Linked DNA regions of Homo sapiens. The protein of the gene in region 2 purifies or fractionates together with the protein of the main gene of each other region. This does not show direct contact. Each region holds a gene or a part of one and is shown on either strand. Other genes may lie near its edges.

Evidence for each region.
Region 1: the proteins of ZNF396 (region 2) and PGBD1 purify together in Homo sapiens (affinity purification with mass spectrometry; 4 studies listed by BioGRID and IntAct, with this or other methods). This does not show direct contact.
Region 3: the proteins of ZNF396 (region 2) and ZSCAN18 purify together in Homo sapiens (affinity purification with mass spectrometry; 4 studies listed by BioGRID and IntAct, with this or other methods). This does not show direct contact.
Region 4: the proteins of ZNF396 (region 2) and SCAND3 purify together in Homo sapiens (affinity purification with mass spectrometry; 3 studies listed by BioGRID and IntAct, with this or other methods). This does not show direct contact.

The regions. Positions count from the first base shown.
Region 1 is NC_000006.12:28,276,796-28,284,594, forward strand, and holds the start of PGBD1 (piggyBac transposable element-derived protein 1), read left to right. Parts: upstream 1-4,776; 5' UTR 4,777-5,123; intron 5,124-6,960; exon of another isoform or gene 6,961-6,980; 5' UTR 6,981-7,018; coding exon 7,019-7,414; intron 7,415-7,799. Other genes in the region: ZSCAN26 (zinc finger and SCAN domain-containing protein 26), read left to right, coding at 1-301.
Region 2 is NC_000018.10:35,374,328-35,382,026, forward strand, and holds the start of ZNF396 (zinc finger protein 396), read right to left. Parts: upstream 3,011-7,699; 5' UTR 2,951-3,010; intron 2,625-2,950; exon of another isoform or gene 1,800-2,624; intron 38-1,799; 5' UTR 1-37. UniProt on the Homo sapiens protein: Isoform 1 and isoform 2 act as DNA-dependent transcriptional repressors.
Region 3 is NC_000019.10:58,083,348-58,088,249, reverse strand, and holds the end of ZSCAN18 (zinc finger and SCAN domain-containing protein 18), read left to right. Parts: intron 1-845; coding exon 846-934; intron 935-1,241; coding exon 1,242-1,344; intron 1,345-1,983; coding exon 1,984-2,076; intron 2,077-2,870; coding exon 2,871-3,565; 3' UTR 3,566-4,394; downstream 4,395-4,902. UniProt on the Homo sapiens protein: May be involved in transcriptional regulation.
Region 4 is NC_000006.12:28,584,286-28,592,170, reverse strand, and holds the start of SCAND3 (SCAN domain-containing protein 3), read left to right. Parts: upstream 1-4,872; 5' UTR 4,873-5,453; coding exon 5,454-5,873; intron 5,874-7,885.

The DNA.
Region 1 (7,799 bases), on a different chromosome or scaffold from region 2:
ACTCCTCACCCACCATCAGAGAATCCATAGTCACTCCAAAAGCCATCAATGTAACGAGTGTGGAAAAGCTTTCAGTTTGACCTCAGACCTTATTCGACACCACAGAATTCATACTGGAGAAAAACCTTTCAAGTGTAACATATGCCAGAAAGCCTTCCGACTAAACTCACACCTTGCTCAGCATGTAAGAATCCACAATGAAGAAAAACCCTATCAGTGTAGTGAATGTGGAGAAGCCTTCAGGCAAAGGTCAGGTCTTTTTCAACATCAGAGATATCACCACAAAGACAAACTGGCTTGATGAGGTGTTCTCTCCTTGTAGAACATCAGAGAAGGCACATTGACTAGCAAACAGCACTTTAGGAAAAGTCACCGTAGCCCACTGTGGCATCAGAAAATTCTTGGGGGCTGAGTTGGAGGCTCCCTGCCTCTATTCTCTCTCCTTTGCTTTCCTTGAAGTCAGCTTTGGACCACAATAATTTCACTGTAGATGATATGCTAGGATCAAAGTTAAACAGCATTCTTCACTGCAGGACATCTCAGAGCATGTAACATAACTGCATGATTATATACTCTAAGCAATAGAGAGCTTCATGACTGAGTAAGAGTTTTGAAGTCAGCAGTGAATCAAGTGCCCACAGATTTGCAGGCTTAAGCAGAACAAGGGAAGATTGATATTTTTGGATATGCTATAGCAGCTTTCTCCTATGAAATAAAACTGATGATGTTTGGAAGTATACTACTCTCAAAGGTGTCTTTAAAGTACAGGTTAATGGTGAACATTTTCCCCCAGTGGCTTCACCTCATTCCTCCCACTGGCCTTACCCCTTCCTTCCCCAGTGGAAGCATTTTCAAAAGCAAAGATAATTTTCGCTGGTGAACTTCAGAACTTGCCTTCAGGGTTAGCTTCATGTAATTTTACCATTTCCCATCCCCATTCCCCACCACATTATGTCAAGATTCAAGTTATAAATTAACGTTTTACTTAGACTTTGAAAGAGATTTCATGAGTAATTTGAATGAACCTTGCTGAATTAATCTGAATAGCAACTGTCTGACTTGATAACTCCAGTGCCAGTATAGTGGCTGCTGCATAGACACTATTCAGTAAATGTCTGATGAAAGAAATTGGACTTTTTCCCTTTAATACTGATGATGCAATTTTGAAATGTTGCTTGTTCTGGAATACTTCGGAAGTTAAACAATAAAGTCAGCTTGGAGAGGAGATCATGATCTTTATACTGTGAATAGCAGAATGTCACAGATGAAGAATATTAAAATTAGGGGCGTCCACTCCAAAACATATCACCAGAGTGACAACTTCAGCCCTCAGCCTCTGCAATCCATATATATCCTGGTCTTGGGAGTCCATAGAATACTGTTTCCTTCTAATAAAGGTTTCAAACAAATCCCTGCAGATTTATTTAAAGTGTTTGTGGAAGATAATTTTCCATATAAGCTGTGCAGTATTCTATGGTATATGTCCCCATTGTTCATCATTTACGTCATTTACAGTTTGATCACCATAAACAATTTTTCAGTGAACATCCTTGTATATACAACTTTGCCTACTTACAGAATTTTTTTCTTTGTTCAGTTCCCATAATGAGAATCAATGAGGCAGAAGGTAGGCATATTTTCTAAGGCTTTTGATGCATTTTCCAGAATGCCCTCCAGAAAAGTTACACTAATTTGTACACCCTGTTAGCAGCCTATGATAATGCCCAATTTTCTATACCCACGTAAACTGGGAATTATTCTTTTGAATATTTGACAATCTGATGTGTACAAAATGGTTTGCTTTTTTTAATAAACCATTTTTTAGAGCAGTTTTAAGTTCTCAGCAAAATTGAGAGGAAGATACAAAGATTTCTCATATACCCACTGCTCCCATTCATGTATAGCCTCCCCTATTATCAACATCCCCTCCCAGGGTGACATTTGTTACAATTGATGAACCTACATTGACATATTATCACCCAAAGACCATAGTTTACATTAGGGTTCACTCTTGGTATTGTTCATTTTATGGGTCTGGACAAATACATAATATCGTGTCCACCATTATAGTTTCACTGCCCTAAAAATCCTCTGTGCCTTACCTATTATTCATCCCTCCCTTTTTCCAGCCCCTAGCAACCACTGACCTTTCTACAGTCTTTATAGTTTTGCCTTTTCCAGGATGTCATGTATACAGGTTGAGTACAGCTAATCTGAAAACCCAAAATCCAAAATGCATTAAAATGTGAAACTTCAGCACCAACATGATGCTACAAGTGAAAAATTTCATACCTGACCTCGTGACAGGTCATAGACAAAATCCAGTCAATACTTTGTTTCGGCTGGGTGCAGTGGCTCAAGCCTGTAATCCCAGCACTTTGGGAGGCCAAGGTGGGTGGATCACCTGAGGTCAGGCGTTTGAGACCAGCCTGGCCAACATGGCGAAACCCCGTCTTTGCTAAAAATATAAAAATTAGCCGGGTGTGGTAGCATGCACCTGTAGTTCCAGCTACTTGGGAGGCTGAGGCACGAGAATCGCTTGAACCCAGGAGGCGGAGGTTGTGGTGAGCCAACATTGTGCCACTGCACTCCAGTCTGGGCAACAGAGCAAGACTCAATCTCAAAAAAAAAGACTATGTTTCATGCACGAAAGTATTTAAACTGTATAAAATTAGCTCTATGTGAGTAAGGTATATATGAAACAAATGAATTTCATGTTTAGACTTGGGCCTCATCCCTAAGATATTTCATAATGTATGTATATATTCCAAAATCCGAAATTGGAAACACTTCTGGCCCCAAGCATTTCAGATAAGGGATACTCAACTTGTAGTTGAAATCATACAGTATGTAGCTTTTCAGACAGGATTCTTTCACTTTGTAATATGCTTTTAAATTTTCTCAATATCTTTTCATGCCTTGATAGCTCATTTCTTTTTTTTTTCTTTTTTTTTTTTGACATAAGGTCTCACTCTGTTGGCCAGGCTGGAGTGCTGTGGTACGATCTTGGCTCACTACAACCTTTGCTTCCTGGGTTTAAGCAATTCTCCAGCCTCAGCCTTCTGAGTAGCTGGGACCACAGGCGCACACCACCACGGCCGGCTAATTTTTTGTATTTTTAGTAGAGATGGGGTTTCACTGTGTTGCCCAGGCTAGTCTCCAGCTCCTGAGCTCAAAGTGATCCACCTGCCTCAGCCTCCCAAAGTGCTGGGATCACAGGCTTGAGCCACCGTGTCTGGCCAGCTTATTTCTTTTTAGCACTGAATAATATTCCATTGTCTGCATATACCACAGCAAAAGAAATATCTGTTAAAGGACTGTTATCCAAAATACAGAAAGAACTCTTAAAACTCAGAAATAAGGAAACAACCCGATTCAAACATGAGCCAAAGACCTTGACAGACACCTCATTAAAGAAGATATACAGATGGAAAATAAGCATATGAAAAGATGCTCCACACCATATCCCATCAGGGAAATTGCAAATTAAAACAACTGTGAGATGCCACTACACATCTATTAGAATGACCAAAATCCAGAACACTGACACATCAAATTCTGGTATGGATGTGGAACAACAGGAGCTCTCATTCATTGCTGGTGGGAATGCAAAATGATACAGCCACTTTGGATGACAGTTAGGTAGTTTCGTACAAAATTAAACATACTCTTACCATGTGATACAGCAATCGCCCTCCTTAGTGTTTACCCAAAGGAGCTGAAAACCAGTGTCTACACAGAAGTTTGCACACAGATGTTTATAGCGGCTTTATTCATAATTGCCAAAACTCAGTAGGTAAATGAATAAATAATGGGTCTGTTTTTTAAAGAGTTTTTTATATTTTTACTATTGAACATCTTTTCACATGTTAATTTGTCACTTATCTTGTGTGTAGTAATGTTCATATCCTTTACTAATTTTTCTACTAAAGTCTCCTTTTACTCTTAAACAGAAGTGCCCTTAAAAATCAAATAGGGAACTTGCATATCAGCATTTTAAATGCACGTGTCCTTTGGCTGAACAGTTCTAATATGTGGCATTTATCCTAGAAATATATTCTTAAAAGAATGTAAAGGTATTGAATGGTGTTCCCTCTAGCATTGCTTTTAAAGAAAAAATATAACCTAAGTATGCATCAATAGGATAGTTAAGTAAATTATGGAACACTCATACAGTATTACTTAGCTGTTAAAGAATAAGCTGATCTGTGAAGATCTCCAAGTTGTCTTAACCGAAAAGAGCTAAGGTGCAAAATTACATTATGATACCATAAGTGTTTTAAAATGTATAAATACTTATTCACTAAACAAAATGTTCATTAAGTGCTACTGTGTGGCAGGTAGTGTCCTAGATAAATATGAACAAAATACAATGGTTAACTCTAAAGAGGGGACACTTTTCGTTTTATGGTCCTTTTGCAACTTGACTTTTTTATTGTACATATATTATGTATACTTAAAGAAAATAATTTGTACAGCTTACTATAATGGTCTTTTTATTGATCTGTCTCTCCTACCAGCCAGTGATGACCCCGAAGACAGACATTTACCACTGTGTTGGTTTTCAATCGAAATGATGTACATAAATTTGGGGCGTGCTTGCACCGTCCGAATGGGCCTGGGGTCCGGCGGCGGAGAGTGACCTGGGCGGGGCAGGAGGTGGCAGCGGGGGTCCTCCCGGCTCACCAGAGAGACGAGCGGCCGTGCTCCTAGAGAGGCAGGGAACCCGCCAGACTCCGCCACTCCGCTGCGGGCGCGGCGCAGGGAGAAGCTTTTGTACCCGCCCAGCTGCTGGAGGCGCCGGCAGCGCCCGCCAGACCCGCCAGCCCAGCGGCCCGGGCTCTGGGGAAACCGGCGCTCCCGACAGGGGAGCACCGGGCCTCTGAGCTCCCTCGGGAGCCTTTCACGAGGTCAGCTACGTCTTTGTTGTGCGCGTTCCTGAACTTTTGGTCCATTAACCAACAATTAGACACGCCGGTATTCAGTGCCTGGCGCGGTGCTAGATGCTGGGTGTAATCTCAGAAAAATACATTCAGGGGCGCGCCTGAGGGTGCTGGCTGCTGGCATCTCAGGTGCTTTACGTGCATTCGTGAAGAAGCCCATCAGTATTTCTTGAATACCAGGTACGTGCCGGGCATGTAGAGTCTATGCAGAGATAAACTCCTGTCCTCAAGAACCCGGGTGGGGATGGGGTTGGTGATCTGTAATACGAGATGGAGATGAGGGTTGGGTGCAGTTTTCTATGGGAATACCCCATCTCAACCTGTGTGGCTTACTTTTCCTGTCTATATGTTAGGGTTAGGGGTTGCCAGGGAAGGTTTTACAATAGAACATTTACGCTGGGCCTTGGGAATTTACCCTTAGAAGGGCGGTCCTGACTGTATAGAGTGGGTGGAAAAAAATTGAGTACTTAGCATGGCAGTGACATAAGAAATTTGGGAAGACCATGGCTTTCTTGAAAGCAGGAACCAAGTCTTTTATTCCAGAGTTAACTTTATGCCTGGAAAATAATGAGATGCTCCACAAATGTTGATTGAGTGACAAACAAATCAGCAAAACCCAGTAAAGATTAGATCCTGGGGAGTTTGAATTTACTTCAACGAGTTTAATGAAAACTTTGTGTGTGTTTATGTGTGTGTGAGGTATGTTGAATATGGTCACAACTGTGCTTTAGGGAATATTAATCCAGTGACCATAGAAGCGGGGAGTTGGGCAGGAATACCGTAACAGAACATTATTGTAACAGTGAATGAAAATAATAGTAAAATTATAAGAAGGAAAGAATGGCTGCAAGAGGCGTTTTTAAGAATTGACTCACTGATTGTGTATAGAGGCTGTTTAAAAGACTGAATGCGTGGAAGATGATGGTGATGCCAGTAGAAATGGAGAAATACCGAGTGAACGCAGCTTTGAGGGACTCTGATTTCAGTTTGAGATCTGTTGAAATTATAGTGCAGTAGAGGCCCACAGCTGCTGGCATTTCAAGATGTGGGTTTGGAGTGCAAAAAGCAAGCTGGTGCCAAAGATTTGAGTCTTCTTGGAACAGAGATATATTGAAAGTGTGACTAAGGAGATCACAAAGGAAAAAATGAAAAGAGGGAATAAAAGAACTTGATGCATGTCTACTGTTTTTCAGTTATGTATTGTTGCATCAAAAATAAAACTCTAAACTTAGTGGCTGAAAACAAGCTCAGCTTATTGTTCCTCAGGATTATGCGGGTTGACTAGGCGGTTCTACTGGTCTCACCTGGAGTTACTAATAGAGCTGCATTCAGGTGGTGAATTATTTGAGCACTAGGCCTGGCTGGGCTTTAACTTGGGCATTTTGGTTCTCATCCACATGACCTCTGTATAGCTAGCTTGGGCTTCCTTACAGCATGGCAGTCTTATGGCAGTGAGCCAAGAGCTACAGCAGCACTCTCTCTTACAATGTCATTTCTGCTGTATTCCACTGGTCAAAGCAAGTCATAGGCCAGAACAGATTCAAGGGAAGGAAAAAGAGACTCCACCCCTTGAATGACAACAGTGGCAAAATCTCATCACAAAAGGTATTTGAGAATGGGAGACTTTGGAAACATTCTGTTACACCTACATTTAAAGTGGAATATTCAATGAGAGTTACACAGATATAGAAGACCTTTGAGACTGTATTATTTGTCCATGAAGGCAGCCATCTGCCTCCTCAATGGGTAAATTATCCCCTCTCCCCAGCTGAAGTGCAAGCTACTCGAGCTTTCTTATTGCTAACACTTCTTCCCTCATGTCCTACATCCCTTACCTTTGGACTCAGGCCCTTTAGTACTAGTTCAAAATATACTTCTGATTCATTTCACTGATAATAGAAGCAAGCAGGCTCAGCTTTTGAGCATTACCTACAGTGGGGACAAAAATGTAAGTAGGTTACATACAGTTTTGAAGCTCTTATAATTTGCATGTTGCTGATAAATTCTTATGCCTCAGATCTCTATTTCTGAATATAGACCCCAAGCTAAGTGAAGCTTTAGCCTCTAAGCTCAACATGTATGAAGCTTTGCCAGGCCCTGCTCCTGAAAATGAAGATGGCCTTGTGAAAGTGAAGGAGGAAGATCCCACCTGGGAGCAGGTGTGCAACTCACAGGAGGGCAGCTCCCACACTCAGGAGATTTGCCGCCTGCGCTTTCGGCACTTCTGCTACCAGGAGGCTCACGGACCCCAGGAAGCTCTGGCCCAACTCCGAGAACTTTGTCATCAATGGCTGAGACCGGAGATGCACACCAAGGAACAGATAATGGAACTGCTGGTGCTGGAGCAGTTCCTGACCATCCTGCCCAAGGAGCTCCAGCCCTGTGTGAAGACATATCCTCTGGAGAGTGGAGAGGAGGCAGTGACAGTGCTGGAGAATCTAGAGACAGGAAGTGGAGACACAGGACAACAGGTGGGAAGAGAATGTGTGTGGTGATGTGGGAGAAGAAAAGGGGGACATGTATCGGTTTATTTTTAACGTTTTATTTTGAAATAACTCCTAATTTATAGAAGTATTAGAAGAATAGAGAACTCCCGTAAAACTCTTCATCCAAATTTGCCAGTTGTTAACATTTGTTTGATGAAGTCCCATTGTTGTGTACACACTCGTACAAGGAAGTGCATTCCCCCCCCCCAAGATGCATATGTATATGTATACACACACATACATACACATATGCAGTATTTTTTTTTCCTGAATCTATTTGAGAGTCAGTTGCAAACACTATATCCCTTTACCTCACTGTTGACCAGGCTGGAGTGCAGTGGTACGATCATAGCATCATTGCAGCCTTGAA
Region 2 (7,699 bases):
AATCCTCAAGGAGGTGAAGCTGTCCTGATGGACACTCCTTAAATATGATTAAAGAAACAAGTGGAAAGAAGACAAAAGACAAATGCTTCTTAGAACAAAACAACTAAGATTAGAAACATAAGACTGTATAGGAACTACTGACCTTAGTCTTAACAGAAACCATGCTTTTATTTATTTATTTATTTTTGAGATGGAGTCTTGCTCTGTTGCCCAGGCTGGAGTGCAATGGTGTGATCTCGGCTCACTGCAACCTCTGCCTCCTGGGTTCAAGTGATTCTCATGCTTCAGCGTCCTAAGTAGCTGGGACTACAGGTACCCGCCACCACGCCTGGCTAATTTTTGTATTTTCAGTAGAGACAGGGTTTCACCACGTTGGCCAGGCTAGTCTCGAACTCCTGACCTCAGGTGATCCACCCGCCTTGGCCTCCTGAGGTGCTGGGATTACAGGCTTGAGCCACCACGCCAGGCCCAGAAACCATGCTTTTGAAGAATACTTCTTTAAGAGAACCAAACAGCTAAGACTCATTAATTCATATGCATAAGTGATTCACAATTCATTCTGAAAACCATGCCCACAAGGCTACTGAATATTACAATAAGAGATCAGCCAGGATTGCATAGAAGCTCCCAGATAATGGAAATAAGGGAAGCCTGAGAAATGCTCTAACTCTGGAGCCAGTTCAAAGAGCCAATCGGTATTTAGTGTGCTGCAAAGAGCTCAAAGAAATAGTCTCATGAGGGAAGCACTTTTGTGTGACTTTTTTCAGCTTTTACTGTTAAAACATTACTTCGACATTAAAGGAACCATTAAAAAAAAAATAAACCAATCAGCTGGGCACTGTGCTTATGCCTGAAATCCCAGCACTTTGGGAAGCCGAGGTGGGAGATGGGAGGATCACCTGAGCCCAGGAGTTTGGGACCAGCCTGTGCAACATAATGGGACCCCATCTCTACCCCACCAAAAAAAAAAAAAAAAGAAAAAACAACAAAAAAGGCAATCACGTTCCTTCATCTGAATGTATTTCTATTTTTTTCCATATCCATATTACTTACTTAACTATTTTAAAATACTTAGGTTGTTTCTAATTTCACTATTATAATTAATGCTGGGAGGCACATCTTTATGAATATACTGTTTTTCTCCTTTCAAAGTATTTCTTTCAAGCATGTCCCAAGGCCTCTGCTTGTTGAGGATCAAAGGAGAAGAGCAAATTCTGTCTTGCTATGTATTATCAAAATATTGCACAAAGACTGTATCAATTCACAATACCATCACAATCATAGTGACTTGTGAGGGCAACGATTTCTTCAAGTATTATTAGCTCGTTAGCAACAAAGTTGGGGGGGGACGGCACTTTCCTTTGTATCATTTTACTGTTAAGTATCACCAGTAACTAATCTCATTTTGTTGTTGTTGTTGTTTTGTTTTGTTTGAGACAGAGTCTGGCCCTGTTGCCCAGGCTGGAGTACAATGGCGGGATCTTGGCTCACTGCAACCTCTGCCTTCTGGGTTCAAGCGATTCTCCTGCCTCAGCCTCCCAAGTAGCTGGGATTGCAGACGTGTACCACCACGCCCGGCTAATTTTTATAATTTTAGTAGAGACGGGGTTTCACCATGTTGGCCAGGCTGGTCTCGAACTCCTGACCTCAGGTGATCCCTCTGCCTCGGCCTCCCAAAATGCTGGGAGTACAGGCGTGAGGCTCTGCACCCGGTCTAATCATATTTTTTAAATTGGGCAGGAGGTATATGATAGTGTTTGTACAACTTCAGCAAATGATGACTACTTTAAAAATCTTACGTGCGCCTCCGTCTTCCATCGTTATGTATCCTGCCATTTGACTTATTTTCTCACTTCACCAAGTATTGTTCTAGGCCCTGTATAAAGCCTGTGAGTTCATAAAGTTGTTACCAAATAAATGATACAACTTTACACAATGATGTGCTATGAAACAAACAATAGCAGACACACATATTAACAGAATTTACTATGTGCCAAGCACTGTTTTGAACACCTTAGTAAAAATAAACAAAGGTTAAATCCTCATAAAAGCCCTAGATTATTTTTACCCCCATGTTGTAGACGGGGAAGCAGTCACAGCAAAGCCAGGTACTCTGGCCAAGGGCAAAGCTGGGGTCTGAACCCAGGCCGTCCACATTTATCCATGGTGCTGTGTGGTTAGAGGCCATAGGCAGCAGGGGCCCTTGTGGTGACCCCTGCGCGTTGTCTCAGCGCAGAGGAGGAAGTGGCGGCAGGCAGCCGCGCTCCCAGATGAAGCGGGGCCAGAAGAGTCTGGGGAACAAGACCTGAGAGGTGGGAAGGGTTGAGGCCACCGGTTTGGAGCCGTCAGGTACCCTAAGGGATATATGAGGGACCCCGGGGCTAAAGCAGCCTCTGGAAGAGAGTGGCCGCCCTGTCACTTCAGCACCAGGCGCAGAATCTGTGCTAAACCTGAGGTGAGGGTAAGGAACCCCCGACACCGCACGACAACCAGAAAGAACGTCCCTGGAGGGGAGGCTTCGATCAAAGCCTGGGACGCAGGGGTCTTTCTGCAGGGGACGCCGCTCTCGGCTCTACCCTGCTGTGGTGGGCCGGCTCTGGGAGGGCTGGCTTCCGACCATCTCCCGACCTCCCGCGCCCACCGCGCCGCGCCGCGCGCCTCCCAGGCTGGGAACCGCCGGGGCGAAGCGGCAGGTGGCGCGGGTTCACCTGGCAGGGCAGGCGCCCGGGGTCCGCCGGGGAAGGACGAGGGGAAGGGGTGCGCGGACTCAGGGGCAGGCAGCGGAGGGGAGGGGCCTGGGGATCTGGGACGGTGTAAGGGTGCTGCACTTGCGCGCGAAGGGAGGGGTGGCGACGAGTCCGCGGCCGCCTCTCCGCGTCCCCCTTCCACCACCCGGGGACCACCGCCTCTGACCGCAGCCTGGGGGCCCTAAAGAGGCCTCGGGTCTCACCTCCCGACGCCGTCGGGGAGAAACCGGGGAACTGCCAGCTGCGCAACAACTTCCGGTTCTGGTGGCGGGTCGGGGCGGGGCCCGGAACGCGGGGACGTTGCCATGGAGAAGAGCCGCTGTGGCCGCGCACTTGGGACAGGGAAAGAGAACCGGGAGGCTCGACCGGTGGGAATCCAGCTGCTCTGCTCAGTGTTCCGTTCAATAAACTAGCATTGTTGCTTCGCAAAGTGCTTTTGCTTACATTATTCATTTACTCCGGTAACTCAGTAAGGTTATTCCCATTTTACAGAAAATAAACTCAAATGTCCTGTGACTTGCCAAGGATTACAGAGAGGGGCGAATGCTGTGCTGTCTACCGCTGAGTACAATCCCTAATACCATTCCCACTCCCGAAGTGGTTACACCCCAAGTACTGACGTTTTAAGGGACAAGTTTGACATCCGCAACCCCATGCTTTCACAGGAGAACACAATGGCCCTTGAAAAAGTGAGAACTGACCCACATAAAATTTGTTACAATACATACACATATCTCTCCTCAGATAATCTTAATCTCAATTGAAAAATAAGTTTGAGGCCGGGCGCGGTGGCTCATGCCTGTAATCCCAGCACTTTGGGAGGTCGAGATGGGCAGATCACATGAGCCAAGGAGTTCGAGACCAGCCTGGCCAACATGGCTAAACCGCATCTCTACAAAACATACAGAAATTAGCCGAGTGTAGAGACGCATGCCTGTAGTCCCCGCTTCTTGGGAGGCTGAGGGGTGAGGATCACCTCAATCTGGGGAGGTGGAGACTGCAGTTAGCCATGATTGCGCCACTGCCCTCCAGCCTGGGCTGCAAAGTGAGAGCGTCTCAAAAAATAAATAAATAAATAAATTTAAGCCTAAATGCACCACAGCCCCACCTCGTGACTTCCTTCTCTAGCCCCTTTCCCTAGGGACTCCTGGAAAATGTACTTGTACTCGTAACTGAGGAATTAGGGAGAGGACGGAGATGCTTGAAAAGCACTTGCTAATTAATAAAGAACAATAACAAAAAATCCCTTTTGGTATGACGCCGCCCCAAAAGTATGTTAGTACTGGAATCTGAAGTGAAGAAAGAAGAGGCTGGTTTACTCAGTTTATGACGCTAGGGGACTAGGGAGAGGTTTGGATCCCAATTAGAGTACAGTAAAACTAAATCTGAAGAAATTCTTGCTTCAAACAAGGGGCTTTCACAGGATAAGACTTTTTGCTGATGCAGCTGCCAACACAAATAGCAAACAGCCCAAAAGTGCAGGTGGGAATGTGTTTCTGGCGCTGGTGGGTAGGGTAGGTTAAATGACTCACGTCAGGGGAGAATTTGAAACGAGGGCAAGGCTTGGCAGTGGTGTGAAGTCACAGGAGACAATTTAAGGAGAATATGAACGACAGTCAGAAGCTTCAAGGAGAAGGAGGAACTGTGGGATGTGGCAAGAGGTCAGGGATGATGAATTCATGGGTATGGTCCACCAAACAGCCAGATATCAGAGGCCAAAGTTAAAAACAGCAACAACAAAAAAGGGAGCAGACATAAAAGATTGATTAGAAAAGTTTCACAGTCAGGTAGTTAGAGCAAGAACAGGTTTTTGTTTGCTGTTTTAATTTTTTAAAAATTTTGGGGGTAAAGTGAAAAGAAATTAGCAGGAATAAGGTCCCAGTAGGGTGAGCACCTACTATATACCAGTTGTATCGTAAACACCGGGAATTCAATGGTAAAATATAGATTCTTGCCCTTTAGGGGCTAATAGACTAAGTAAAGAGAAAGATGAATAAATTGACTTTTCTAAACAATGTGGCAACATTCTGATGGAGACAACTGCAGGATACTATAAAAGCACAAAGAAAGGGAGGTCCTGGGTAGAGACTGGGATTGGAGTTGATGGAGAAAGCTGGTGTTGATACATTTGAGACTGAGGTACCAGTGTGGGATGTTGTTTAGATTTGCTGGATTAAAGGACAGCAGGATGAGTGGCTGAGGATGAGGCTGAAGAGGCAAACAGCAGCCTAGTTTTAAAGGGTTTGACAGGCCAAGTAAAGGGCTATGAACTAAGGTTTTAAGCAGAAACTTGAATTAGTGGCATGTGCACATCTGCAATTCAGGTAGGGCTCTCTGATAGCAACACGAAGGATAGATCTGAAGGGAGGCAAAACTCAAGACAGGGTTACCAGCTCTGAAGCTGTTGCAAAGATCCAGGCTGCAGCTGGTGAAGGTCTGAACTAGCACAGAGGGGACGAGAATGGAGGCAGATTCTGGAAACACTTGGGAGGCTGGTGCTTGCTTAGATGGAAGACTGACAGATGATTGGGTACATAATGTGTCATTCAGGGAAGTTAAACAACAGAGTATGTTTGACAATGGCTTATGTGGATATTTGAGGGGATTTTTGGGTAGACTGGATCAGAAGCTGAATGGGATGCTATCATCAATAACTGCACATAATTGGACATTTTGTGTGATCATGTGAAAATAAATATCAAACATGTTTTATATCTGAATGCTTCCCTTATATAGGTATGTAAAGATCTCTATGACTTTTATGAACCATTTCTAAGGCAATCACTCTACAATGACATTATAGAGACATTTATTTCTCAACTTTGTACTCTTCACCACTCCCTTCATCCCAACATATTTGCTCTCCACCTAGGTAGAAGCTTTTAGGGGCATGGATCTGTGTCTGTCTAAACACATAACCCTTGTTTTTTTTGACCCGAGGTGCATGAAGTGGATGTATTATACACAGCTGCCATGTTTCTATAGGATAAGGAATTAGAAGGTTAAGAAATTTAGGTTGGCTCAAGCATGGTGGCTCATGCCTGTAATCCTAGCACTTTGGGAGATCGAGGTAGGAGGATTGCCTGAGCCCAGTAGTTCGAGACTAGCCTGGACAACATGGCAAAACCCCATCTCCACAAAAAAATACCAAAAATTAGCTGGGCATAGTGGCATGCACCTTTGGTCTCAGCTTCTTGGGAGGCTGAGATGGGAGAATCACTTGAGCCCAGGAAGTCAAGGCTGCAGTGAGCCATGATCATTCCACTGCACTCCAACTCGGGCAACAGAATGAGACCCTGTCTCAAAAAAAAAGAAACTTAGGTTTATAAACACTGCATGTTCTCACTTATAAGTGAGAGCTAAACATTGAGTACACATGGACACAAAGAGGGGAATAATAGACATTAGGGCCTACTTGAGTGGGGGGTCGGGGTTCAAAAACTACCCACTATGCCTATTACCTGGGTGATGAGATAATATGTACACCAAACCCCCATTCAGTTAATCTGTATAACAAGCCTCCACATGTACCCCAAAACTGAAATAAAAAATTAACAAAAATAAAAACTTTAAAATTAAAAAAAAAAGAAATTTAGATTGAGCAATAAAAAGCAATTTGCCTACAATGGAACTATGGTTTCCAAGCAAGTGGTGGATGGGTTGTATGTGTAGGAGTCCAAGTGTGGGTACACACTTGTCAACCTGAAATAATAAAAGGGTCAGAATCCAGTTTTAAAGAGTTTATTCAAACAAAAAGCTGGGAATAGCCATTCCAGGACACACAGACTCCAGAGAAATGGGATCAGTGCTCCAAAGTTAAAAGTTAAATCTTGCTAATATAGGAAGAAGACAAAGAAATTTATCAGGATTGCAACATTTTCTATACAAGGCTGGCTTAATAGTTTCAACAAATTAATTAGTTAGTTTGTTTTCTTTTCCATATAGCTTGTTTTCTTTATAGTTGGTTTTCATTTGGTTTCCAATTTAAAAGAGTGTATTTAACATTCTATCTTAAGTCAATGTGATAGTCAAGAAGTCTGTGTGTGAGAAAGGTAAGAGAAAGGTGAATCTATAATAAAGGCCAACAGTGGAGAGGGAAGGGGTCTTCCTCTTCCCTTTGGCCATATATAACATTTTACAAAACAATGCAGGTAAGGGAAAAGGCTTCATCTGTAATCAGAGAAACAGAAGGTTATAGCTCCCTAGTTTATAGGTGCCTACCATGTGACTCAGGATCAGTAATAACATTCTTCCAAGTCCTAAAATAATTTAGAGTTCTAGCAGCTTAGATTTCGAATGACTCTTTTTCACACAGTGAACAGATATGAGAGTTTGTGTGAGGGAACTAGGGGAGCTCTCTCTCCCTTAGTGGAAGACGTGAATAAAGTATCAAGTTGGGAAAACAATTAAGGAAGTGTATTAGTCTGTTTTCACGCCGCTGATAAAGACATACCTGAGACTGGCAATTTACAAAAGAAAGAGGTTTAGTTGGACTTACAGTTCCACATGGCTGGGGAGGCCTCACAATCGTGGCAGAAGGCAAAGAGGAGCAAGTCATATCTTACGTGGATGGCAGCAGGCAAGAGAAAAGAGAGCTTGTGCAGAGTAACTCCTGTTTTTAAAACCATCAGATCTAATGAGACCCATTCACTATCATGAGAACAGCATGGGGAAAGACCCGCCCCCATGCTTCAGTCATCTCCCACCGGGTCCCTCCCACAACACATGGGGATTATGGGAGCTACAAAATGAGATTTGGGTGGGGACACAAAGCCAAACCATATCAGGAAGTATCCCAAACTGAGTTCATCTTCTCTCTCCATCACCCTCAATAGGCCAAATTCCTTGCTTTGATAGTGAAACTGCTGTTAGCTCTATGTTCCAGGCAGTAAGTCTTAGGAGTCATCTTACACATTTTTCTTTCCCTTGTTTATGAAATCCAATGTGGTCTC
Region 3 (4,902 bases), on a different chromosome or scaffold from region 2:
TGGTTCTTTAGTTGCCCAGCATCGCGTGCTCAGCCCATCCCCATCCTAGAGGTGGGCTCTCTGCCCCTTGGAGTGAAGCTGCCCTGACACCTCCTGACTTGTGTGCCCATATGTGAGGCTCTGGGCACTGTGGGTGGACTCCTCAGGACCACTGGGCAAGTGGTGTGTGAGTTCGACATTTCACATAAAATAGAAACTTCCATGTGGTTTTCCAGAAGTTTTGTGGCTGTTCATTACCAGCACGGAAGGTGCCCACTGGCCTGGATACAGCCCAGCACTATGTGGTGTTGCTTTTTAGGATTTCCACGAAGGCCAGGCACAGTGCCTCATGCCTGTAATCGCAGCACTTTGGGAAGCCAAGGCGGGCAGATCACTTGAGCCCGGGCATTCGAGACCAGCCTGGGCAACATAGGGAGACCCCATCTCTACAAAAAATACAAAAATTAGCCGGGTCCGCACTTTTAGTCCCAGCTACTTGGGAGGCTGAGGTGGGAGGATTGCTTGAGTCCAGGAGGTGGAGGTTGCAGTGAGCCAAGATCATGCCACTGCACTCCAGCCTAGGTGACAGAGCAAGACCCTGTCTTTAAAAAACAAACAAACCAAAAAAAAAAAAGATTTCCATGAATCCAGTGGACTTGAATGGGCATCTCTGGGGCCACCCAAGCCCTGTGGCCACCGCGCTGCTTTGTAAATCAGGGAAAGGTGTAGTGTCCGTTGAGCCTTGGGTGCTGCTGTCACAGAAGCACACTGGGGCCTGTGTGGGAGGCAGCGGGGGCTCCTTGACCCTTGAGGGCACCTGGCCACAGGGAGCTCATTGCCTCAGCTCTGCCTCTCCTTCTCCCCAGCCTGGCTTTCTCCGGACCCCCTGTTTCTGGAACAGAGGAGGGTCAGAGAAGCAAAGACCGAAGAGGACGGCCCTGCCAACACCGAGCAGGTGGGTGGGCACGAGCAGGTGGGTGAGGGGCCTTGGCCTCAGCTTAGAGGCATCCCCCTCCCCATCACCAGTGCTCAGCAGAGGGCTGTGGCCCCAAACGTCCACAGCGCTGAGGCCCAGAACCCACCCTGGTGGGAGCGTGAGGGCGGAATCTTTGTGGTGCGAAGGGGGCTGCCTCCTGCAGTGCACCTGGGTTAGAGTCCCTGGCCAGGGCTGGCTCCTAGCCTGCTCCTGTGGCTGTGGGGCTGCGGCGGGTCCTCCCTTCTCTAGGGCAGGTGGGAGGTCTCAGCCACGACTAATGTTTCAGAAGCTGAAGTCCTTTCCAGAGGACCCTCAGCACCTGGGGGAGTGGGGCCACCTGGACCCTGCCGAGGAGAACCTGAAGAGCTACCGGAAGCTGCTCCTGTGGGGTGAGAGTCGCCTGCCTCGGGGTCACGCCCCACTCCCCATCCCCTTCCGCAGGGGTTGGTGCAGGAGACTGTGACCCCAGGGACTTTGGCTGGGACACTGTGATGTCTTACAGGATTTGAACTTGCACGTGTTGGAGCTTGAATTTATTCGCTGAAGCCCCCACCCTTTCTGATCTAAACATCTGAGTTCTGCCCAGGCCCTGCCTGTAGGACTGAAGCCTCGGAATTTGGAAAGGCCTCCTGGCCCCAAGGCGCCCACATTGCCACCCTCCTTGCCAGATACAGGGCCTCACCTGCATGGCCTGATCAAGGGTCTCCTCTTTTGTAGACGTTCTTGCCCCAGAAACCCTCCTTTTAGGGAGGCCCCCCGACTCAGACTCCTGAGCAATTTTTGTCAATGTCTTTCTTTAGCTTTGCTTTCTCTGAGTCCTGCCTCCGCCTGCCCCGTTGCCCTTCCAGCCTCGCCTTCTTCTTTGCTCCACTGTCCAGGGGCCTAACAGGGAGGTGGCCTTGGTGGGGGTCCCAGTACAGAGAAGAGGAGGTGGGCTGCAGCCTGCCCTGGCTGGCCCACGACACACAACACCCATCAGCCACTCTGTGTTGATGCCTTTTATTTCTTTGGTTTTTAACCCCACTCAGGGTATCAGCTTTCCCAGCCTGACGCTGCCTCCAGGCTGGACACTGAGGAACTCCGGTTGGTGGAAAGAGATCCACAAGGAAGCAGCCTCCCAGGTGAGGTTGGGTTGAATTGGTGTTAGGGCCGGGTGGGGTTTGCTTTTTCTTCAGAGGCTGAGGGGGCCCCTCCCAGCGCCATCAGCCCCAGCAAAGACCTCAGCATTGACTGCTTCACCATTCTCCCACCACCGTGTCTGAGTGAGGCAGGAATCCAGTTACGTCCATGGTCTCTTGCTGCATGACAGACCACCCCAAGACTTGGTCGGTGGAAACGGCAGTGGTGTTAGTTGCCAGGATCTGTGTATGACTGGTCCCGGGGGTGGCCGTTCTGCCCCATTGGAGGCTCTGTGCCAGCACACCAACAAGAACACCTAGAGGCGGACTTGGGCTGGAGGGCCCTGGGTGCCTGTCGCCAGGGGGCTTGTCGCTGGGGGGTTTGGCCTTAGCTATTGACCCCACTCTCTTCGCTGGCAGCCGGGCCCCTCCCTCCAGGAGGGTGCGCTCTGAGCAGGCTCTCCTTGCATCGTGCATCTTGTGGCCAAGCTAGTGGCCAGGTGGAGACCTCCAAAGGCGCGGTTTCCAGAACCCGGGCTCAGTGGGGCTGTCCTTCCTGTCCTGTCGGTGGCCTCCGTTGTTGGAGGCCTCCAGGTCCCACATCTGCAGCAGCAGGCGCGGGGCATGCGCTGCAGGGCTGCCTGGGAGGGACAGCGCTGCTTCCAAACAGCCGTGAGCCCCGCGGGGATCCAGAGCCCGGAGCCCTGTGCGCTGTTCCGGCAGCTGAGGCTCGGCTGGGTCCTCCTCTCCCTGGCCCTGGGCGGGGCGCTCACGCTAGGGCTCTGACCTTGTTCCAGAAGGCGGGAGGCGGCAGGAGAGCGCTGGGTGCGCCTGCGAGGAGGCCGCCCCCGCGGGGGTGCTGCCTGAGCTGCCTACGGAGGCGCCCCCTGGGGACGCCCTTGCCGATCCCCCGTCGGGCACCACTGAGGAGGAGGAAGAGCAGCCTGGGAAGGCCCCGGACCCGCAGGACCCCCAGGACGCGGAGTCCGACTCTGCCACCGGATCGCAGAGGCAGTCCGTCATCCAGCAGCCTGCCCCGGACAGGGGCACGGCGAAACTGGGAACCAAGAGGCCGCACCCCGAGGATGGGGACGGGCAGAGCCTCGAGGGCGTCTCTAGCTCCGGCGACAGCGCAGGGCTGGAGGCCGGGCAGGGCCCTGGGGCTGACGAGCCGGGCTTGTCCCGCGGGAAGCCCTATGCCTGCGGCGAGTGCGGGGAGGCCTTCGCGTGGCTCTCGCACCTGATGGAGCACCACAGCAGCCATGGCGGCCGGAAGCGCTACGCCTGTCAGGGCTGCTGGAAGACCTTCCACTTCAGCCTGGCCCTAGCCGAGCACCAGAAGACCCACGAGAAGGAGAAAAGCTACGCGCTGGGGGGCGCCCGGGGCCCCCAACCGTCCACCCGCGAAGCCCAGGCGGGGGCTAGGGCGGGCGGTCCCCCAGAGAGCGTGGAGGGCGAGGCTCCCCCCGCACCCCCAGAGGCGCAGAGGTGAGCCGCTGTGCTGTCCCGTTCCGGAGGGGCCGCTTTGCCGGCCGTGAATCCCAGACGAGGCATTGGGCCTTTCCACGCCCCTGGGTGGCGGCTTCCTGTGGTGTTTGTGGACGTCCTCTGCCTGTGCCCTGAATCCGCTCCTGAGGCTAAGCGCTCCCAACGAGAAGGGTCCACGGGAAGCCCTCACCTCTGTAAACACACCCTGGGCCAGCGCTCGCATCCGAGGGGAGCCGCCGGATGTGGAAGAAGACTCGGCTTTCCTGCAGCCATTTAGTGCCGCCCCATGCTAGGTTATTTGACATTGTGCAGTGTAGAGTTGCCTTAAAGTGCGTGATCTGCCAGTGCTTTCTTCAAGTCACCCTTGCCCCGATTCCTCCTGTTTGCGCTCCCCAGGGTTGCTCAAGTGGAAATTTTGTCAGCTGTTTAGCCTTTTCGTACTTGGCGTGATGTCAACTTCACTTCTAATCTGCAAAAGCAGAAGCTGTTTCCTAGTTTACCTCGCGTGTGTTTACCTATATGGAGTAGCTCGCAGAGATCACAGAAATGCTTGCAGCCTAAGGCAGGGTTTTCAGACCGTGGGTCCCAGCCCATTTAGTAAAATGGGAAATCAATTAGCAAGTGGTCACCAGCATTACACAGCAATGAAGCAGAATAAAGTAGGCCAGAATGCATCATGTAGTAAAGGCAAATACTGTTTTGTGAAACTTTTCACCCATACATCTAAATGTGAGAACTGGTTGCAATGTAAGACATTTCTTGCTGGGAAGTTGTGAGCAAAATAAGTTGAAAACACTAATAAAGATCTGTCTGTCTGAGCAAAGGAGACTAAACTCCTTGGGCTACATAAGGTGATCTTTTCATTGATTGCATTTATTCTCAAGATTACAGTATCATTCCCATTGCCTGCGCATAAACTTAACTGCTCCCTGCGCATAAACTTAACTGCTCCCTGTAGATACAGAAACTGGTGCCTCTTTTTCTGTCACTGTGTTTGAGCAGGCAGTCTGTTGTAATGACCCCCAAATCACAGAGACTTAGTAAGTACTTATTCATGGGCCGGGCGTGGTGGCTCACACCTGTAATCCCAACACTTTGTGAGGCTGAGGCAGGCAGATCATGGAGTTTGAGACCAGCCTGGCCAACATGGTGAAACCCTGTCTCTACTAAAAATACAAAAAATTAGCCAGCTGTGGTGATGCGTGCCTGTAATCCCAGCTACTCAGGAGGCTGAGGCAGGAGAATTGCTTGAACCTGGGAGGCGGAGGTTGCAGTAAGCCAAGATTGTGCCACTGCACCCTAGCCTAGGTGACAGTGCAAGACTCCATCTCAGAAAAAAAA
Region 4 (7,885 bases), on a different chromosome or scaffold from region 2:
CAGCAAATGGAGTTAATTTCAATTCCTTTCCTATTAGGATGACTTTTATGTCTTTCTCTTATCTAATTGCTCTGGCTCTATAAAACTAATCTTTTGAGAGTTTTTATGATGAAAGGGTGTTGAATTTTGTCAAATACTTTTTCCGTATCTATGGATATAATCACATGGTTTTTATCCTTCATTTTTGTTAATGTGGTGTAACACATTTTTTGATATGGACAGATTTTAAAGTCTGTTTTAATTTCCTCAGGAAATCAGCTACCATTAATTTGCTTGGTCCTCTATTCTGAACACATCTTCTCTCGGCAGCTGATCATATTCTCAATCCTTAGCTGGATATCTTCTTTGGAAAAGAAGTTTTCCCAGGATATGCCTATACATCTTTGATGAAACTGTCAAAGAAAAAATGTACCAGATGGAGTTAAATAGGCAAGGAAGACTTTATTCCAGACAATTGCAATAGGGGAGAGAAATTAAATAAACTCAGATCCAAATACATCAGGGACAGCTGGGGATCTATAGCTAATAGTAAGGGTAAGACAACCATTTGATAGAAAGTGACTACGAGGAACTTGATTAGATATCAAGGGTGGAAAAAGAGAAACTTGATAGGATTTTGAGGTGAGGAATTCTTACTGAATTGGCTTAGCAAGATTCTTGCTAAAACTAGGCTCAACTGGATTATTTGCTGAAATTGGGCTGGACAAGCCAAGGATGGGACCTAGTTGAGAGGAGGGCTCAGAGGAACCTAACTAAAGTTTGTTCAAGGGTGGAGTTTTTATAAATACCCACGGGAATTTCCTCAGCTTCCTAAAGGAATTGGTAGACCCACAGAACATGTAAGGCATCAGGGGGAGCATCTACATATGCTCCCAGCCTCTCCCAGTGTTGGTGGCTGCTTCCGCCTCCTCATAGCAGCTGCTCCTTGGCCTTCTGTTCAGTTCTGGGTCACGTTGTGCAGGCACCATCTCCAATCAGGTCTTGTCCATTACCTTAATTTAGAGGCTTGGGATAAAGTCTGAGTTACTGGTTTGAGCTAGGATAAGTGGATGCTTGACGATGGATGTGATCATAATGATTACTTACAGTAACACAGGCAGGCTATGGTGTTGGTCGGAAGGATGGCTGGACTTATAAGCATCCCAAACAGGCAGAAGAGGCTGTTAGGCCATTAGGAAAAGGGAGAACACTTTGGGTGAGATCTCATCACGCTAACATCAACAAAGTGGAAAGAAGGTGGGGCCACACTAGCTAAGGCAACACCACAAGAAAATGTTATTTCCCTCTGCAATTAGCACCATTACAGACCATATGAAGTACAATCAAGCACACATAACGGGAGCCAAAATAATGCTTTCATGAATTTTGTAAACTTAGTTACAGAGTCTCTGTGTAACCAATGGTAATTCAAAATATGAGCTAATGAATTATTAATGGTTTAATGGACTTGGTGAAAGTAGGATTCGATTTGGTTTTTTGGTATGTATGCGAAAATCAAAATGTCAAAGTAAGAAATCTGAAAATAAATAATTGGATTTAAAGGTTGTCTCTTACATCATAGAAGAGATTAATTTGTACGAAACACAAATACTTGTTTCTAATTTAGTTCTTGTCCTCTCTGTCCTCTAGGGCACACCTTTCCCTCACCTTGACACCTCACATTTCCCACCTCATTCTAACAGCTAAATTAGTGTCTATAAGGAATTTTCCAGACCTTCCGGGTTTCATCAACTCTATCTCCAATTCAATCCTCGTCTACACACACAGTTCAGGGGAGGCAAGATAGCGGCTACATTTTCTGTTCTTGACCTTCAGCTCCAAGGGACTGTTTCCCGGATGCTTCGGACCGAGTGTTTGGTAGTGTCTGGGGAGGACTCGGTCAGGGAGCCCCCTCCTTTCACCCTGGTACTAGGAGCTGAAGAGGCGAGATGCCAGGCGAACGGCTGAAGGCAGAGGTCTTTTTACCCCCATCTCCCTTGTCTCCCACACAAGTTGTAGGGCCCCTCCACCGTGTCTGGTCCTGAATTGGGAATGCCAGCTCCCAGCGCGGCGAGGCCCAGGTCCGGTCCTAGGTGAGTTTTTCTCTCCGGCTGGAAGACTCGACGCCGTGGATACCAGGGACCCGAGCCCTCCGGGGCTGCTGGCTTTGGAGGGATTTCCAGACGTTGCAGTCGGGGTGAGCGGAGAGACTAAGAAGTACAGGGGACTAGAGAAAGCAGATGAGGGTGAATTGTCTCATCAAGATGGGGGATAGGGAAAAGGGGCGAGAAGTAACCCGGGGCGCAAGGTCCACAGCGAAAAAAAAAAAAAAAAACAAACAAAAAAACAAACAAAAGAAACACGCCCGAGACCAAGGCTCAGCCACTTTACACGCAGGACTTGGTTGTGGCAGCGAGGAGGGCTTCGAACCTAGGAAATTTTGAGGAAGCGTTTGTCTCCATCACAGGAATTGGGTTTCCACGTTGCTGCTGGAGCTTTTCGTAAGTCGATAAGAGCAGCATCTTTCTCTTTGTCTCCAAACCCGTGAATTTGATACGCTTTGAAAGCGTTCTTCTAGGCGAAAGAGCTTGGTACTTTCATGCTTGGATAGAAGGGGAGAGTTCAATACCGTGCACGCGACCACAAAGTTGTTTTCGACGAGAATTCGATGGGAAGCGGAGGAACGAATTTTTCCCACATTCAGAGGCCAAGCCAGGAACTGTAAAACGTTCACCTTTGAAAGGTCCCACCGAGATTCGAACTCGGATTGCTGGATTCAAAGTCCAGAGTGCTAACCATTACACCATGGGACCAACCACAAGGGTACAGTAGGTAAGTATAGTCGTGGTTAAATACCTCCTTGATAATAAACTTTCTAGTTCCGATCCGAAAGAGTTAGGTCAGGCTTCAGTGAGACTCACGCTGACAGGAAAGCTGACGCTTTGCTGCTGAAGAAGGAGTAACTGTCAAAATAAAATTCAGGGAGATCTCTTCACTCTTTCCTGCGCTTTTGTTGGGAGCATAAATTAGCTTCCAGAAATCAACCGGGGCAGATTTGTGAGGTCTGAAACTTAACAATTTAGAAAGTCCTCTTTAAGAAAAAGAACAGCTGTTATCAACATAAAATTATGGGTACTCTAAGGCCTGTATGATGTATCTGAGGATAAGCTGGAGTAGGGAGAGGAAGCTGTCTTAACTAATTTTCACTATACTAGCATACTTTTGCAAATCTTACAAAATATGTTTCATACAGAGCAACCTCTTCCCAAGGCCTTGGAAAGCACAGCGCAAGGAAAGGATCTTAACACACTTTAGCGAGACTCACGATAAACATCCCTCTGGGGTGCAGATCTTTTAGCAATATCTATCAAAATAGTCTCTTCTACAGCCACTAAAAAGAATGGGATAGACATGTAACACATGTTGGCTTGGCAGTTTCTGGGGGAGGATTTAAGTTTAAAACAAACCAAAAAAGCCCAGTAACTTGGTGAATTGTAGTCTAGTATGATTTAAGTTTTGCAAATTATAATGAGTTATAATTGTGACTCAGTTATATTTGTACATAATAATATTGTACTCAATTTTGTATGTACATTTTAAAAATAGGTTGGAGGTACATACAACAAACTCGGCATCAATTTTTCTGAGGAATGGAACTGAGGATGAAGAAACTTCACTTCTTGCCACGTTGACTTTTTAAATATTTGACTTTTTTTATAAGTGTCTATCACTGTTGTAGTAATTAACAAATGCAAATCTACAAAACAAAACAAACAAAACAGTAAGGCTCGTCAGTAAAGGACTTAGAAGTCATGCTTACTCCATGTTAACTGCCTACTGTGCTCAGCATGGCAGAGATCACTGCCTTGCAGAATGAGAAAAAGGTAGTAGAATCCCTGATTGCAAAGGATAGTTAGGGGGGGAAACAAAAGATAAGTTCAGCACGTTAAAAGTGACTGGGAAAATGATCTTTTCAGGGTTGGATGACACAGGCACACAGACAAAAATTTTATACAGAATTTTACTCAAGACCATTCACGGACTCTAAGCGTAAGATTTCTTTTTTATTTAGAGATTTCTAAAAGAGATGTTCTGATTATTCAAAGACTCTCTACTCAGAAATGCCAAAATGTGAGAAATCAACATGAGGACCACAGCAGAAGGAAACAGAGAATGGAGAAGGGAACCAGGCAGCAATTCAACAAATATTCCTTGGGCATCTCTGCGCTACCAGAGGTATGGAGGAACCCAGTGACTGCTTGAAAAGAATGTTCTGGTTACTCCACTCCAGTGATTCGCTAGGCGCTGATCAGCCGTCCAGATTTTGTTAGATTTCTGGGACCAGTTTCCCACAGTTGTTTAGTCACGGCTCTGTGCTCCGTGACTAAACAACTGAGGCTCATTCTCGGTGGTCTTGGTTTTCTAATCCGTAAAATGGAAACAATGGACTAACTCTTACATTTCTTTTTAAGTCTGATTTAGGGTGAAAGGGAAAGGTGAAAGTGGCCCGAAATTAACGAGGAAAGGCGGGGGACGATCCTACAGATTCGCTGACGTGGTAGTCCTTAGGGATGCTCCTCTCCATTTTGTTTCAGGTCGCTGCGGTGAGCACCACGGGTCTGAGTGCCAGCGATGGTTTATCACGGTGACAGGAAAACACAGACCAGCAGCATCTACTCCAGCACTACTCACACTGTGGAACTCTTTTCACCGTGATGCCAGATAACTAGGTAATTCCGGAGTTAATTCTCCGTCGTTTCCAGAGTACTTGCCTCCCCAGAATTACTGGTACCGTAGGTGTTTGCACAACCAGTGAGAAGACGGCACCACCTGGAATCCTAGAGCGGACCGGAAGTGAGCGTGGCTCACCGGGCCCGGCCGGAACCTACGGGCACAGCTGCGGGTGTGTCTGCGGAACCTCCACCTGAGCTGTAGAGTGTTTCCCTCGACCCACTAGTCTGGGTTCCACAGGGTCTGAGCTCCTCAGAGGTGGGAGCTGCGGCCGAGGGAAGGGTGCATGTGCGCGGCGACAATCGGGCCTCTTCCCCAGGCAGCTTGTGAGCCCCTCTCCCTCTCCGCCCTCGCCCAGGCTGCTCCGATCTTCGTTTCCTTGCCTAGGCTCATACACCCAGGCTTTATTTAGGGCCAAAGTATCCGTCATAACCTCGGTTTTCTGTCTCGCAAGTATCTTGCCGCTCAATTTGTGACCCTGAAGCTTTAGTGAGTCGCTCTGTGCTCACTATTTCTGGTCTTTTCAGAGGATGGCTTCACTTTCAATGGAATTGCCCGAGTAACTGCCCTGTGTTGTCACGTAAACAAGTCCTTTTAAACTGAGTCTGTAGTTGTCCTGTGTTGAGTGTTTTCTTATATCAAAAACTTTCCTGACCAAGAACAAAAAAGGAGCTCAAGTAAAATCACCCATTTGCCTAGACCCCAACTGGAGAGAACCTTTGCCTGAGCTGTCTAAGCTCGGGATGGAAGCAGTCTCTAGGGTCTTCCCAGCCTTGGCTGGCCAGGCTCCAGAAGAACAAGGGGAGATTATCAAAGTAAAGGTTAAAGAAGAAGACCACACTTGGGATCAGGAATCAGCCCTACGTAGGAATTTGTCTTATACCAGGGAACTCTCTCGTCAGCGCTTCAGGCAGTTCTGCTATCAGGAGACACCTGGGCCCAGGGAGGCTCTGAGTCAACTGCGGGAACTTTGCCGTCAGTGGCTGAACCCAGAGATACATACCAAGGAGCAGATCCTGGAATTGTTGGTGCTGGAGCAGTTCCTGACCATCCTGCCTGAGGAGCTCCAGTCTTGGGTGCGGGAGCATAATCCTGAGAGTGGAGAAGAGGTGGTGACTTTGCTGGAAGATTTGGAGAGGGAGCTTGATGAACCTAGACAGCAGGTGAGAAATTGGAGGTGCCATCTTCTGTGGAGAATTTGGGTGCATGGATCCAGAATGGAGTAATGGGAGTAATTTCGCGCTGGTGGTTGGAAACCCTGGTTTGGGGCATTATTTCTTATTTGATCACTGGTGTAGATGAATAGATGCGTGCATATGAGATAACAGTTTTTGTGTATGATACAAATAATTAAATGATTTAACCAAATGGAAAAGCTTGATCTATTTTTTACCAGTAGAAAATATATTTTATGTAGTGACTATGAGATTAAAGAAATATACAATAGTAAATTTTTTTTAAAAAATTACTGTCTTTTGAAGCTATCTAGGCTCTGTTACTAATTAGCTGTGTAACCTTGGGCATATTACACCTTCTCTGGGACATTAATGTCTTCATCTGTACAATGAAAATACTAATTGCATGATTTCCTTGGTTCTTTTCAGTATCTAGAGTTGGTATGTAAAATGTTTTGAGCTCAAAATTATTTTTAGAAGAATTTTAAAAGCTTTTTGCCATTACAGTGGAGTTGTTTCTAAAGGAGTATATTTGCCTTCTTTGACAGTAATTTTAGAACATTGTGGATATTGCCAGACATTCTTATATTTTTTAGTGATACTATTCATACATTTATCTGAACTCTTTCAGAATGTGAACCCTTTATGTATACAGTCTGATCTGTTAAAAACGCATGTTTCTGGAATGCAAAATCTTTTAAAATGAGGTCAGTATGCCAGAAATGAGTCAGTATAATGCTGAAATTGTGTAAGCTCATGTATGAGTTTTCCCAGCAAGTTGATGTTTGGGGCCACCAGGTGGGAGTAGCTGAATTCAGAGTATCTGATGTAGCTGAGCACAGCAAGTCCTGAATACATACAGTACTGTACATAATTCCCATTTGCCCCCACATCCTTCCTCTGGCTGTCTTGGAAGCACTTATTTACATTGTTCCCTCCCATCTTTGTGTATTTTTTGCTAAAGTTTTTTGTATTCCAGAAAAGGAGCAAGCAGAGGGTTTTGCAAGTGCCATAGAAGTGTGCTTGTGATAAAATTTCTGCTAGTGAGTATAAAAGAAGAAAAGCTTTAACAATTGAAGACAAGTTTGAAACTATACAGTGTTTTGAAAGAAAAGAAACTGTGAGATTGGTCATGCAACTGGCATAAAGGAGTAAATGTATGTACAATTAGAGACAATGATGGGAAAAATAAAATTATCTAGCTGGAACAACTGCCAGTGTTATGAAATCTGTTGGAACAAGGAATAAGGAAATGGAGGAAATGGAGCATTTGTTAAGTGTGTGGATTGAATACCAAACAAGGAAGCAATCCAATGCAGTCTTTCTCAGAGTTAAAGAAAATACCTTCACAATGTATGGAGACATTAAGAAAAAAAGATGGAAGTCCCGCAGAAGTGCCTTCATTTAGTGGAAGTAGTGGCTGGTTTAGTATCTTCAAGAACTACTGTACTTTCCACAGTGTTAAACTGTCTGTGCAGACGAGGCTGTAAGTGCAGATGAAGAAGCTGCAAAGACATTTTCCCCTCATTAAGAAATTAGATTGATAAGGAAGGCCATCCCCTGGCTCAGATTTTTACTTTTTATGAAACCAGTCTCTATTGGAAGCAGATGCCCTCAAGGGGATATGTGGAGAATTTGGATGCATTGATCCAGAATGGAGTAAGCAGGACTGGAAGTACTCTAGAAACACACTGTGGGGTTTAAGGCTACAAAGGATCAACTGATGGTGATGCTGGGTGCAAATGCCAGTGGAATTTTAAAGCTAAAGCCTGTGATTATCATTCTGCCAATCTATAAGCTTTAAAATGAATTGTAAAGACTAGCCTTGGTGCCTACTACAGGTCTAGCAAGAGAGACTAGATGACAGGGCAGATATTTTCTGATCTTTCGGGTGATTTTTTTGTAGATTAAAAAAAAATAAAACATTGCAAGAGAAAAAAATTGTCTTTTAAAATTCTTATAATTCTCAGTGATACACCAAGCCACCCTCCAGTAGTCAC